Homo sapiens: one gene and its partners. The protein of the gene in region 1 purifies or fractionates together with the protein of each later gene. This does not show direct contact. Each region holds a gene or a part of one and is shown in the gene's direction. Other genes may lie near its edges.

Region 1 (3,751 bases):
GAGACTACAGACCTCGCGGGCTAAGCCTGGTTGTATTATTAAGGGCAGAAGAATGCAGTGGGACTTACGGGTTTGAGGTACTAATGAGGTCCCCCAAGTCAAGAGGAGGCTCATTATGTACATGTGGAGGTCAAGAAGCCAGAGTGAAGCTGCCCAAACAGGGTACCCTTTATGTTTTCAAATTCCTGTCTATCTCCCAGTGTATCCCTACTGTTGGACAATAAGTTTTTGGGGGGTTTTGCTGTTTTAAATAATGCTATGCTGAACATCCTTGTAACTTTTCTGATTAGTTTTTTTAGGATAAATTGCTAGAGATGTAATTCATTGCTGGACCACAGGGCCAAATATAAATCCTAATACTTAAAAATATGTGTGTGTGTGTGTCTGTGTATGTGTAAATGTATAGATATATACACACATATATACACATACACATATATACACATGTGTATATATGTACACGTGTGTGTATATATGTATATATTTTTTTTCTCGAAAAGATGTACAAACAGTTAAAAAAAAATTCAGACAGTACAAATACGGGATGTCCAGTGAATAAGTCTGCCTCCCACACCTGGCCCTCCTTCTGCAGGCTTCACCTTAAGAGAAAAATGCTGTTACTAGGTTTTTGTGTATTTGCCCAGAAATATCCTATGTTTATATAAACATGTATGTTTCTATTATTTTCACTCTCTTTCTCTTTTTTTTTTTTTTTTTTTTTTTGAGACAAGGTCTGGCTCTGTCGTCGTCCAGGCTGGAGTTCAATGGTGTGATCTTGGCTTACTGCAACCTCTGCCTCCCAGGCTCAAGTGATCCTCCCACATCAGCCTCTCTAGTAGCTAGGACTACAGGCGTGCACCATCACACCCTGCTAATTTTTTGTATTTTTTGTAGAGTTGGGGTTTTGCCGTGTGGCCCAGGCTGGTCTCGAACTCTTGAGCTCAAGCAATCCGCCAACCTTGGCCTCCCAAAGTGTTGGGATTACAGGAGCCATGAACCACCACACCCAGCCCACCCTCTTTTTTTTTTAAACACAAATGGGAACATCTTATATCTACACTTTAAAATAGTGCTTCCCATTTCTTTGTATGGCTGTGTGATATATATGCCCAGTCCTGAGCTGGTAATGACACACTCCAGGGCTGCAAGGTCTTTATTGAGCAACCACAGAGTGCAAGGCACAGGATTAAGGCTGCCTCTGCGAAAGCAACACGATGTCTTAAACTGGGCTAGTCCCCCAGAATGCTTTGCAGTCTCCCGGGGAAAGGGGATTTGTAGCGCGCCTGGGACCCAGTGGGCCCCTAGTATCCCAGGCAGGAAGTAGAAGAGGCTGTCAGACCCTGGGGTTGTGGTGGGGTCAGGAACTCTTCGCCCCACTACCCCAGCAAGCACCCAGTATCTACCCCAGTACTCCCGGAGGGAGCTGGTCTGCCCGAAGTGAGTGTGCCATTGTATGCAGGGGCGGGGGCCACAGACTCAAGAGGCCTGGGGGAAGCTGGCTTCACAGGTGAAGGGTGAGGGGTAGGGGCACGTCTGTGCCCGGCACTGGAGCAGAATGCTTGCTTTCTCCTGGATAGCCGACTAGATTGTCTCCTTTTTTTCTTTCCTTTTTCCCCAGAGGCTCATCCAAAATAGAGGAAGCATGCGAAATCTACGCCAGAGCAGCAAACATGTTCAAAATGGCCAAAAACTGGAGTGGTATGTCATCTCCGCTAGAGCTCCTCCAAGGTGCTCTCCTCCTCCCTCAGCTTCCACTCACACAGGCCTGCCCGAGAGGTTGGCCTTGAGGGCCCTTTCTCTTTGTATGCCCTCTCCGGCATCGGAAAGCCACTGGCCTGCTCTCTTGTTTTGTGCCTGCTGGGTTACTTTATACTCTGGGTCATGGGGCCTTGGTGAAAGGACAGAGAGGATGGGAATAAATAGATTATTAGACCTAGATAAACCCATGTGGATTGATGAGCTCTTAGAGTCCTCCTTAAATTCAGAACTTCAGGTTTCCTGGTAACTTCCTTAGTGCTTCCATCAGTGTCTAAATTCTAGGCTGGGGGAGGATGTTCAGGTGATTCCAATAACAACGTGAATCATGGCTGCTGTTTGTTGAGTCCTAAGTGCTCATCATTTAATTGCGTTAGCACAGCAGCCCTAAGGGTCAGTCTATAAATATCCCTATTTTACAGATTTGGAAACTGAGGCTTGGCTTAGTCTCTTGCCCAGGATGCCAGAACTAGTAAGTGACAGAACCAAGATTCAGAAACCAAGGCTCTGACTGCAGAGCCTGAGTGTTTAACCTGCCCCAGTGAGGCAGGATAGCTTCACAGAGGAGAGGGGTGGGGAGGAGCCCCTTGGGCTCAGGGAGGCTGGAGATCTGTTTGGAGCTCCCTGCAGGCCCAAGAAGTCCAACAAGCCAGTGTGTTGAGCCCTTTCGAGGCTCATTTCATCATACATCTTTCATGTCACCAAGATTGAATTAAGGAAATACGGCAAGAGACCCAGTGTTTGAATGCAGGGAGGAACTTCTGACTGTGGAGGAGAGGGAACCTGGTGGTGGGACCATGGAGGCAGGGTGCAGAGGTGCACAATAAAATTGATTATCATCGTTTTTGAGAATGTTGTTGGTTTCCCCAAAATTCAAAGAGTTATTCCTGAGTTTTCACAAAATACGTTGTGAATAAAGCCAAATGTTTTTTGTATTTTTATGCTCCCAAACTTAGAAAATTCCTCTAGAGAAAAAAAGCTTATTTTTTAATTACATAGGTGTTGCTTTTCCCCTAAAATTTGTTACCTCTGCCCCCAAACTCTTCAAAGAAAAGCCCTAGGCCATTTCCCCCCGGTAATATCCCCTTTTCTTGAAATTTTTTTTTTTTTTTTTTTTTTTTTTTTTTTGAGACAGTCTTGCTCTGTTGCCAGGCTGGAGTGCAGTGGCGCGATCTTGGCTCACTGCAACCTCCGCCTCCCTGGTTCAAGTGATTCTCCTGCCTCAGCCTCTTGACTAGCTGGGATTACAGGCACGTGCCACTACGCCCAGCTTATTTTTGTATTTTTAGTAGAGACAGAGTTTTACCATGTTGTCCAGGATGGTCTCCATCTCCTGATCTCGTGATCCGCCCACCTCGGCCTCCCAAAGTGCTGGGATTACAGGCATGAGCCACCGCGCCTGGCCGTAATTTTATACTCAAATTTGGAACTCTTGAAAATAATGAAATCATATAGTGAAAACCCGGAAGGCTTTGTCTTTTCTGCTGCTCAAAACTTAAGAGGATAGGGCCAGGCCTCCTGGTCCTCTTCCAGCTTAGAAACTCTGACTCAGATTCAGCTGGAGGAGAATGAAGGGGAGAAGCCTCAGAGCTGAGCTGGAGGTGGTCAGCTGCACGAGGAGGAGGAGAGATGCTGCTGCCTCCCAAACGTCAGTTAGGAGATGTGTGGGCAGAATGGCTTGGGACCCACAGAAGCTGACCGTGTGCAGATGAGCACAGGATGGATGAGGCTTCAGGCACGGTCTCTTCTGCCCTCCGCCCATGGGCACTGGTCTGCATGTATTCATTCTTGCTGTCCACATCCTGTTTCCCTCTCTGGACATGCAGCTCCTGGAGGGAGCCGGCTCTGTGTTGTCCGACCCCAACTCCATGAGCCTCACAATTCATGCAAGTGCCTTGTCCATGGGGATCTGCAGTGAAGGGAACAGAATGTGAACAGAGGCAGAGGAGTTGGGAGAATCAGGAAGAGCTTTGGGGAGCTGTGGAAAAAGAAACAG
Region 2 (3,751 bases), on another chromosome or scaffold:
GCTTGGTATGCTCTTTTCCCTTGGATTGGACTTGAAATTTGGTCAGGAAGAGGTAGGACAAATGGGCAGGCAGGAAGCAGACAGATAGGAGAAAGAAAAGTTCCAATTTTGCACCTCGATTCAGACATTTCCTGCTTTTATTCTTGCTTTTGTAATTACTAGAAGGAATACTTAATATTATTTTAAGTAATTTTTAGTCCTTTATCTCCTAGAGACCTACAAACATTAGATGTTTTCTGTGAGACTATCCTGTGAGAATAGAGAAGAGGTTCTAAATGCTATTCATCTCTGTGAAATTTATTTGCTTTCAATCAGTAAGAAAAGTTAAGGATTTTAATTTAAAAAGGAAAAAGCACAACGAGAAAAGTGAAAATGATTCCCTCTGATCGCTAATGTCAACTATGGTCACATTTAATAATTCTTTTTCTGCACATTGAGTTCATTTTTCCTGCCTCTTCCTTTGAGTGCAAATTTTTTTCAGATGACATTATCCTAATTTGATACTAGCAACGTTAGCTAAAAACAATAATTGGATTTTTTAGGTAACAACTTCAATATGAACTAGCTTTGCCTTACTTCAGTTATATTCTTAGTACATTATATATGTTTTCCTTTTAACTACATTTCATTCTTATGTCTTCCTACCATGTAAAGGAAGCAGTATATTTTATGTAATCTAAATGATTAGTTCTAGTAAATATTACCATATTTTCAAAAATAACGATTTCTACATTTCCATCAGCAAGCCTTCTGTAAGGCAATTTTTAAACGTTTTAATTATAGAACATGCATTTTTTTAACCAAAGGACTGTCACAGATTTTAAGTTATAAAGGGATACCTAGCTATCATTTCTTTTATTGAATCTCCATCTTTTATTTGTAATAATTGTCCCTGATATTATGCTTATTTAATTTCATTGCTTTTAGAAAATGGCGGTTTTATTTTAATGATTTTTTTCTATCAAAACACTATTGGATAAAGCCTCCTTCCCAGGTTAATAACTCTTATTAAAAATTGTTTTCATGTGTTTTTTACAAAAGCAACTTAACGCAGAGACTTATGCCAGTATTATAGTCAATGTTAATAATGTCCTGGGAAACTATGAGGAAACGCTAAATGATCAAAGATCACATATTCGGAAATCTCTAGTGTGGAGACGATTCCACTGCCATATATACAGCAGCAACAACAAAACCGCAGACACCCAGTGAATTTTGATCACCTACTGTGTATCAGGTTTTTTTGTTTTCCCTTCAAAAACCACGATTTCATCGTATTCTCACGATAAATCCTCTGAGATAAAATGAAATTCTAGGATTAACCTCGATACCAGTAACACCTCCAACTCGCCAACAAGTTTTAAACCCCTAATTGGCACACTGCCTTGTGTAAGCAGTATTTCAATAAGCTTTGTGTAAGTTAAAAAAAAAAAAGTGGGAGAGCGTTTAGGGGTCCTTTGGTCCCCATAACAACTAAAAGTCTTGGTTCTTTCTAGAAGTACAACAGATGCAGTAACAGGGAACTAACTATTCAGTGCCTCTGACCAGATCCCGCAGCCTTTCCTAGTCTGCTCTCATCTGAGCAGGAGTCCTACTCAAAGGAACCTGGTTTTCTTTCCTTTACTGGATACTACAAGGCACAAATCGGTTACTTCTGTGGGTGTCGGATTACTTGTTTGTAAACTGAGAAACCTGGACAAAGTTTTCTCTAACTTTCCCTGAATCGTCTCTGGAGGTGAGAGGGAGTTCGAGGCTAAATCAGGAAAGATACCCCAACCATCCTCTTGTGGGTGGGGAGGAGCAGATCTGCTGGGTTAAACTTGGTGGTCAACAAACTGAAAGCAGCGACCCGCGGGCTGCGAGCGGAACAGCGGGAACGTTGGATCAGAGACCCAGAATCAGAGCCGCAGTCGAAGCCGCCCCCTTTTCCGGACGCCCCGTCCGCTCCTGGAACCGGGTTCACATCACGCCCTCAGCAACACGTTATGCGTTGGTGAACTACATTTCCCAGAATGCCTTTCAACCTTCTTCCCAGGGCTCCAATGAGCGCCGTGGTGACGCCATCATCCGGCGCGGTGTTTAGACTCCACTGATGTCGTGGCGCTTTAGGGGAAGAAGTTGGTGTTTCGCTGGGCCCTGGTACTGAAGACGCGGTCCGGGTCGCCCCTAGCTGTTTCCTACTCACCCAAAGCCCCGCACCCGCCTTTTCTCTCTCTCCTCTGGCAGGATGAGGCGTGCAGGCCTGGGTAAGAAGAGGGCTGAGGTTCGAAGTTCGGGGCCCTAGAACCGGGAGCGCTGGGGCGCGGGAGGAAATCGAACCTGTCTTATGTTCCTGGCATTTGGTCCAAAAAACAGGATGTCTAGAGGGGATCTTTGGGGTCCATGTCGAGTGGAAACACACCATTTGTCCCAGATCTTTGGAATTTCCTTAAGTTTGAGTCAGATTCAAGTTTGGATGGTAGGCTAGAGAAAGTAGTGGACTAGGGGTGGGTGTGTACAGGTGGCATCTCAGTGGTCGAGTGTTTTAGTGTTATTGACTGAGCGTGGTTATGGACGCTGCTATGTTTTCCAAAGCCCGACTCCGGTTTCTGTTTCCCTACTGGCCCTGGATCTTAGTTTCTTCAGAAGCGGAATTTGAAGAGTGGGTGGTTGCACCCAAAGCACGCTAGTAATGGTCGTTAATCTGGTAACAGTGAGTTACAAAGGTAAATGTATGTGTCATTATTGTTAAAGGTCCTGGAACTGGAACTTCTGGGTCAAAGGCGATTTCTTAATCTGAACCTTGTGCCACGGTTAAGGCAGTAGAACGTGGTTAAGGTTTGGCGACTTAACATTTGATCTTTACCTTTGGGGTTAGGAAACTGGCTCATCAGCAAGAATAAGTTAGACACAAGGAATTTTAATGGACCCTTATAGTAACGCACAGCTACTAGAACGGCATTTTCTGGTTCTGAAGCTTTCTCTTAGGACACGATTTTTTTTTTAAAGAAGACCCCGCTAAATTAGAGTGCAGTATACTTCAGAAAATAAATGAAACATTTGAAAAAAGATATTACCTTTCTCAGTCATTATAAGATTGAAAAAAGAAAAAAAAAATCCCCAAAGTGTCAGATATTTAAAGTCAGTGAAAGTTGCCAATAACCGTAGACTTGTTTATTGATCAATAAATTGTAGTATGAGAAAGTTTTTTGTTTTTTTAATGAAGTTTTTATGAATACTTAGATCATAGAAAATGGGGCCAGGTAAATTGAAGAGAAAAAAAAAAGAAATAATTTTGAGCAAGTTTAGCTTTATATGTCTAAATGTTTTTCTTGTTCATCATCCTTAATACCAAAAAAGATTTATTGTGTGCTTGAGTAAGCTCTAGGTATACAGTTGTTTGTTGCCCTGTTTGTGATCCCCAAAGCTTCCAGTCTAGGTGGGGAGTAGGAATATGTGCAAAGATAAATTGTAGTACAAAGTGTCGCTATACATCCAAATACCAGATAAGTTCTACATATAAGGGATGGTCTCAGAGATTTCAGAGATAGATCACTGTGTACTTTGTGGGGAAGATCTTTGTGTATTTGGTGGAGACATAGGAATTTGAAGTAGACCTTGAATAATGGAGAGTGGGGGAAGTGAGTTCCAGATAGGAGGAACTCAAAAGAAGTAAGGGATTATGATTAAGCCAGTTTGGGTGAAGTAGGGGATTCGGGATCACACTGTGGAGATCTTTGCATGCGAGGCCAAAGAGTTTGGATTTCATCAG
Region 3 (3,751 bases), on another chromosome or scaffold:
CTAAAAATACAAAAAGTAGCCGGGTGTGATGACGCACACCTATAATCCCAGCTACTCGGGAGGCTGGAGAATCGCTTGAACCCAGGAGGCACAGGTTGCAGTGAGACTCCCATCTCAAAAAAAAAAAAAAAGAAAAGAAAAGAAAAAAAGACCTTTCCAGCAAGTTGATCATGACCTTGTGCCTCTGAGAGAAGGTCTATGCCTCTGAGACAAGGTGTGTGGTCTCAGTGAACCCAAATCCCTCCTAGAAGACTCACTTAGCAAAGAAAAGAGCTGCTTCTCACCAGTTGTCTGAGACAGTCACTAGATCCTAAACACAAGGAGGGTTGGGTGTGTATATGTTCAGGGGTGGGATGTGTGCTATTAAGGAGAATCACTGGGTTTCTGTCTTGCATAACTGTTCTGTCCATGGTGCCATCAATAACTGAGATAAGGAATATAGAAACAAACTTATCAGTGATGATAATAAACTTAGCTGGGAATATGACACATAAACTAAACATTTCTGTAGGTAGTTAAAAATAGGTTTTGGAGTTCAGGAAATAGTTGGGGCCAGAGGAACAGTTTGAGTTGTGGTGTAGAAGGTGTCTGTTGAAAGCTTGGGGATGAATGAGGTTCTGTGACAGTTTTCTGCCATTTGCACATAACTTCTGTGGGGTTTCAATTTTGTTACATTTGGGGAAGATAAAAACAATTTATTCTTTTTTCAGCAAAACCAAATTCTTGTCATTTTGTTAGGAATATTAAGTATTACCTGATGGAAAAGTTGAAAGCATCTGTGTTTCATTATAATAAGTAACTAATACTTTTCTGGATACATTTAAAAATAGATGGCTTTGTATGCTAATTTCATGGCCTTTTAGCAAAGTCGATCAACTTTTTCGACTACAAACTCATGTAAGGGCTTGGCTCTTTTGTTAGGTAACTATATATTAGCACATAGAAATGCTAATATTATGTCAAGGAAATAAACAGTTTATGCGTAAAGAATGCACCCTTTATAGTTAAATATATGAAAAGTTTAAAATACTGAGATTGCTAATAGAATGATATAATCTAGACACGACGGGCACAGAATATTCTGACCATAATTTATTTTATAAAACAGGATCTGTTATAAGCTCAGGGTCACAATTATAAATGATACAGATACATGTAGCTGTAGTCCGCCTTGCATTAATTTTTTATTTCTGCATAGCAGATTGCTACAAACTTAGCAGCTTAAAACAGTACTCACTGATTAGCTCACAGTTTCATGAGGCCAGAAGTCTGGATACAGTGTAGCTAGGTCCTAGTGTAGCTAGGTAGCAGAGCTAGGGTCTCACCAGGCCGAAATGAAGGTGTCGGAGGGGGCTGATCTCACCGGAGGCTTGGGTCCTTTTCCAAGCTCATTGATTGTTGGCAGAATTGATTTCCTTGCAGCTGTGTGGAAGAGATTCCTGTTTTCTTGTTGCCTGTTCGCCAGGAACTGCTCTCAGCTTTGAGTTTGCCTTCAGTTCCTGGCCGTGTGCCCCCATTGGTGGTTCACAGCATGGCAGTTTGCTGCTAATTCGAGACATCAGGAGTACTCTGGCCTCTAACTTAAGGAAGGGCCCACCTGATTAAGTCAGGCCCACACAGACAGTGATTCACTCGAAGTCAGCTGATTTGTGTCCTAATCACAGGATGGCCCATCATATTCCGAGGGTCACACCTACACTTAAAGGGGGATTATAGAGGAAATGTTTACAAGGGGCAAGAATCGGGAGCACTCTTAGAATTCTGCTACCAAACCCAGCTTATAAATTGACTTTGTTCCAAAAATTTATCAAGTTGACCTGTGGAAATTCAGAATGCATTTCTCCTATGAGTGTCATTTTATAAGGCACTAAGTTGCCAGCGTGCATCCCATAAAGATTCAGTTTAACTCATGATGTAAGTAGCCATAATAGCATAAGCCAAGCCACTGTGTGTGTGGTGTGTGTGTGTGTCTGTGTATACATGCCACTATTTTTAAAAAGATAACATACAGGCTGGGTGCGGTGGCTCACGTCTATAATCCCAGCACTTTGGGGGGCTGAGGCAGGTGGATCCCCTGAGGTCAGGAGTTCGAGACCAGCCTGGCCAACATAGCGAAACCCCATCTCTATTAAAAATACAGAAATTAGCTGGGCGTGGTGGTGGGCGCCTGTAATCCCAGCTACTCGGGAGGCTGAGGCAAGAGAATCACTTGAACCCGGGAGGCAGAGGTTGCGGTGAGCCGAGATGTCGCCACTGCACTCCAGCCTGGGCAACAGAGTGAGACTCCGTCTCAAAAAAAAATAAAAAGACAGAAAAATAGAGCATATAGCATAACAAGCATAACATTTTTGTATTTTTACTTTGGTTTACAATACCACTTACCTCCCTTTGAATCCCGATAGTACAGACTCTTGCCCCTTTTGGCTGTTGGTTGTGTGTATTCCCAATGCCCAGACCCTGGTAGTTTCTCCCATAACCGTGGACTGTTATTGGGATGAGAGCAGTGGCTAAAGACTGTACATTTCACTCAGTCTCAAGTTGTACTACTGAGGGAGTCCTGGCATTTGGAGTATACTACAGCTTTGCAGGGAGGGGAGGTTCAATTAGGGTTTGATGGAATTAGGGCTGGGGGAATGAGAAAGGGGTAAGGGCCTGGAGGGTTTGGGGGAAATGTTTTGGTGACCCCTTTCCTTGCTTTCGTCTTCATTCTGCCATTGGGCAAAATGGAAGAAAAGGAGAATGTATGAGGGTCAATGGAAAAGATGAATGTTGAAGACTGAAGATGCAGGAAGGCTTTTGTTTAGGTCTCTAACTTGCCTCCCCTCTGCTGCCCTTTTAGGCACCTCAGAGCTTGCTAGGGCCACTGGGGCAGCAGCGGAGTATGTGATGGAGGGACACAGTCGGGGGAAGGCACCGAGTGCCTTGGGTGTCTGGATGTTCTTTCAGTCGGGAGGAAAGAAATCTTGGGTGATTTAATCGAAGATCGTCTCAAGTACGTATCACGAAGAAGTCGTGACACTCGCTATTGGACAGTCCTTACTAAGCTTAAAACTCCCCGTTTGACCTAACCCATCCTTGAGTTCTTTTGCTTTTTCTGTCAGCGTGCAGCCTGAAAGTGGGGAGTCAGACATTTGAAAGGTAAGCCAGATGAGCAGAGCATGTGGAAACCTGGGTCCTGGGGCAGCTGCTAATAATACCTGTCCTCCTGGTGTCTCTACAATCTATGATGTCAAGTACATTTCACAGGGGACCTCTGCTATAGATCATTTAGACCTGCTTTTTTTACATTTCTGTGTTTTGTTTTAGGTTTGATGAGGCGGCACTCTCTATTCAGAAAGAAAAAAATATTTATAAGGAAATTGAGAATTATCCAACTTGTTATAAGGTATTCTTTGAAAGTGTTTGTTTTTGGTATTACATTAGATGATTTTTTATACTGGTATGAATAAGTACTTAAGAAAGGATTCTATGGGTATTTCTATGTTTTTGTAAAATAATACTTCATGGGCCTCTATTTTTGACCAAGATAGAGTAAGCCCACTACAGCTTGTTTCTCTGCTGATTACAGCTAAACTACTGGATAAAATACAAAAGCAACCACCCTTGAACTCTGAAAAGTAAATAAAAAGAGACTAAGGAGAGGAGCAAACACGTGGAGAAACAACCACCATGGGAATGAGTTTCTCGGGTTTTTTTCCATTTCCTCTTGCAGCATTCATTGCCCTGCCCTGAGAGAAGCCCACAGTTGTGG

The links.
Region 2: the proteins of NAPA (region 1) and BET1 purify together in Homo sapiens (affinity purification with mass spectrometry; 5 studies listed by BioGRID and IntAct, with this or other methods). This does not show direct contact.
Region 3: the proteins of NAPA (region 1) and NAPG purify together in Homo sapiens (affinity purification with mass spectrometry; 5 studies listed by BioGRID and IntAct, with this or other methods). This does not show direct contact.

The regions. Positions count from the first base shown.
Region 1 is NC_000019.10:47,501,370-47,505,120, reverse strand, and holds part of NAPA (alpha-soluble NSF attachment protein), read left to right. Parts: intron 1-1,618; coding exon 1,619-1,698; intron 1,699-3,523; exon of another isoform or gene 3,524-3,664; intron 3,665-3,751. UniProt on the Homo sapiens protein: Required for vesicular transport between the endoplasmic reticulum and the Golgi apparatus. Together with GNA12 promotes CDH5 localization to plasma membrane.
Region 2 is NC_000007.14:94,002,693-94,006,443, reverse strand, and holds the start of BET1 (BET1 homolog), read left to right. Parts: upstream 1-2,088; 5' UTR 2,089-2,227; coding exon 2,228-2,246; intron 2,247-3,751. UniProt on the Homo sapiens protein: Required for vesicular transport from the ER to the Golgi complex. Functions as a SNARE involved in the docking process of ER-derived vesicles with the cis-Golgi membrane.
Region 3 is NC_000018.10:10,543,020-10,546,770, forward strand, and holds part of NAPG (gamma-soluble NSF attachment protein), read left to right. Parts: intron 1-3,306; coding exon 3,307-3,385; intron 3,386-3,751. UniProt on the Homo sapiens protein: Required for vesicular transport between the endoplasmic reticulum and the Golgi apparatus.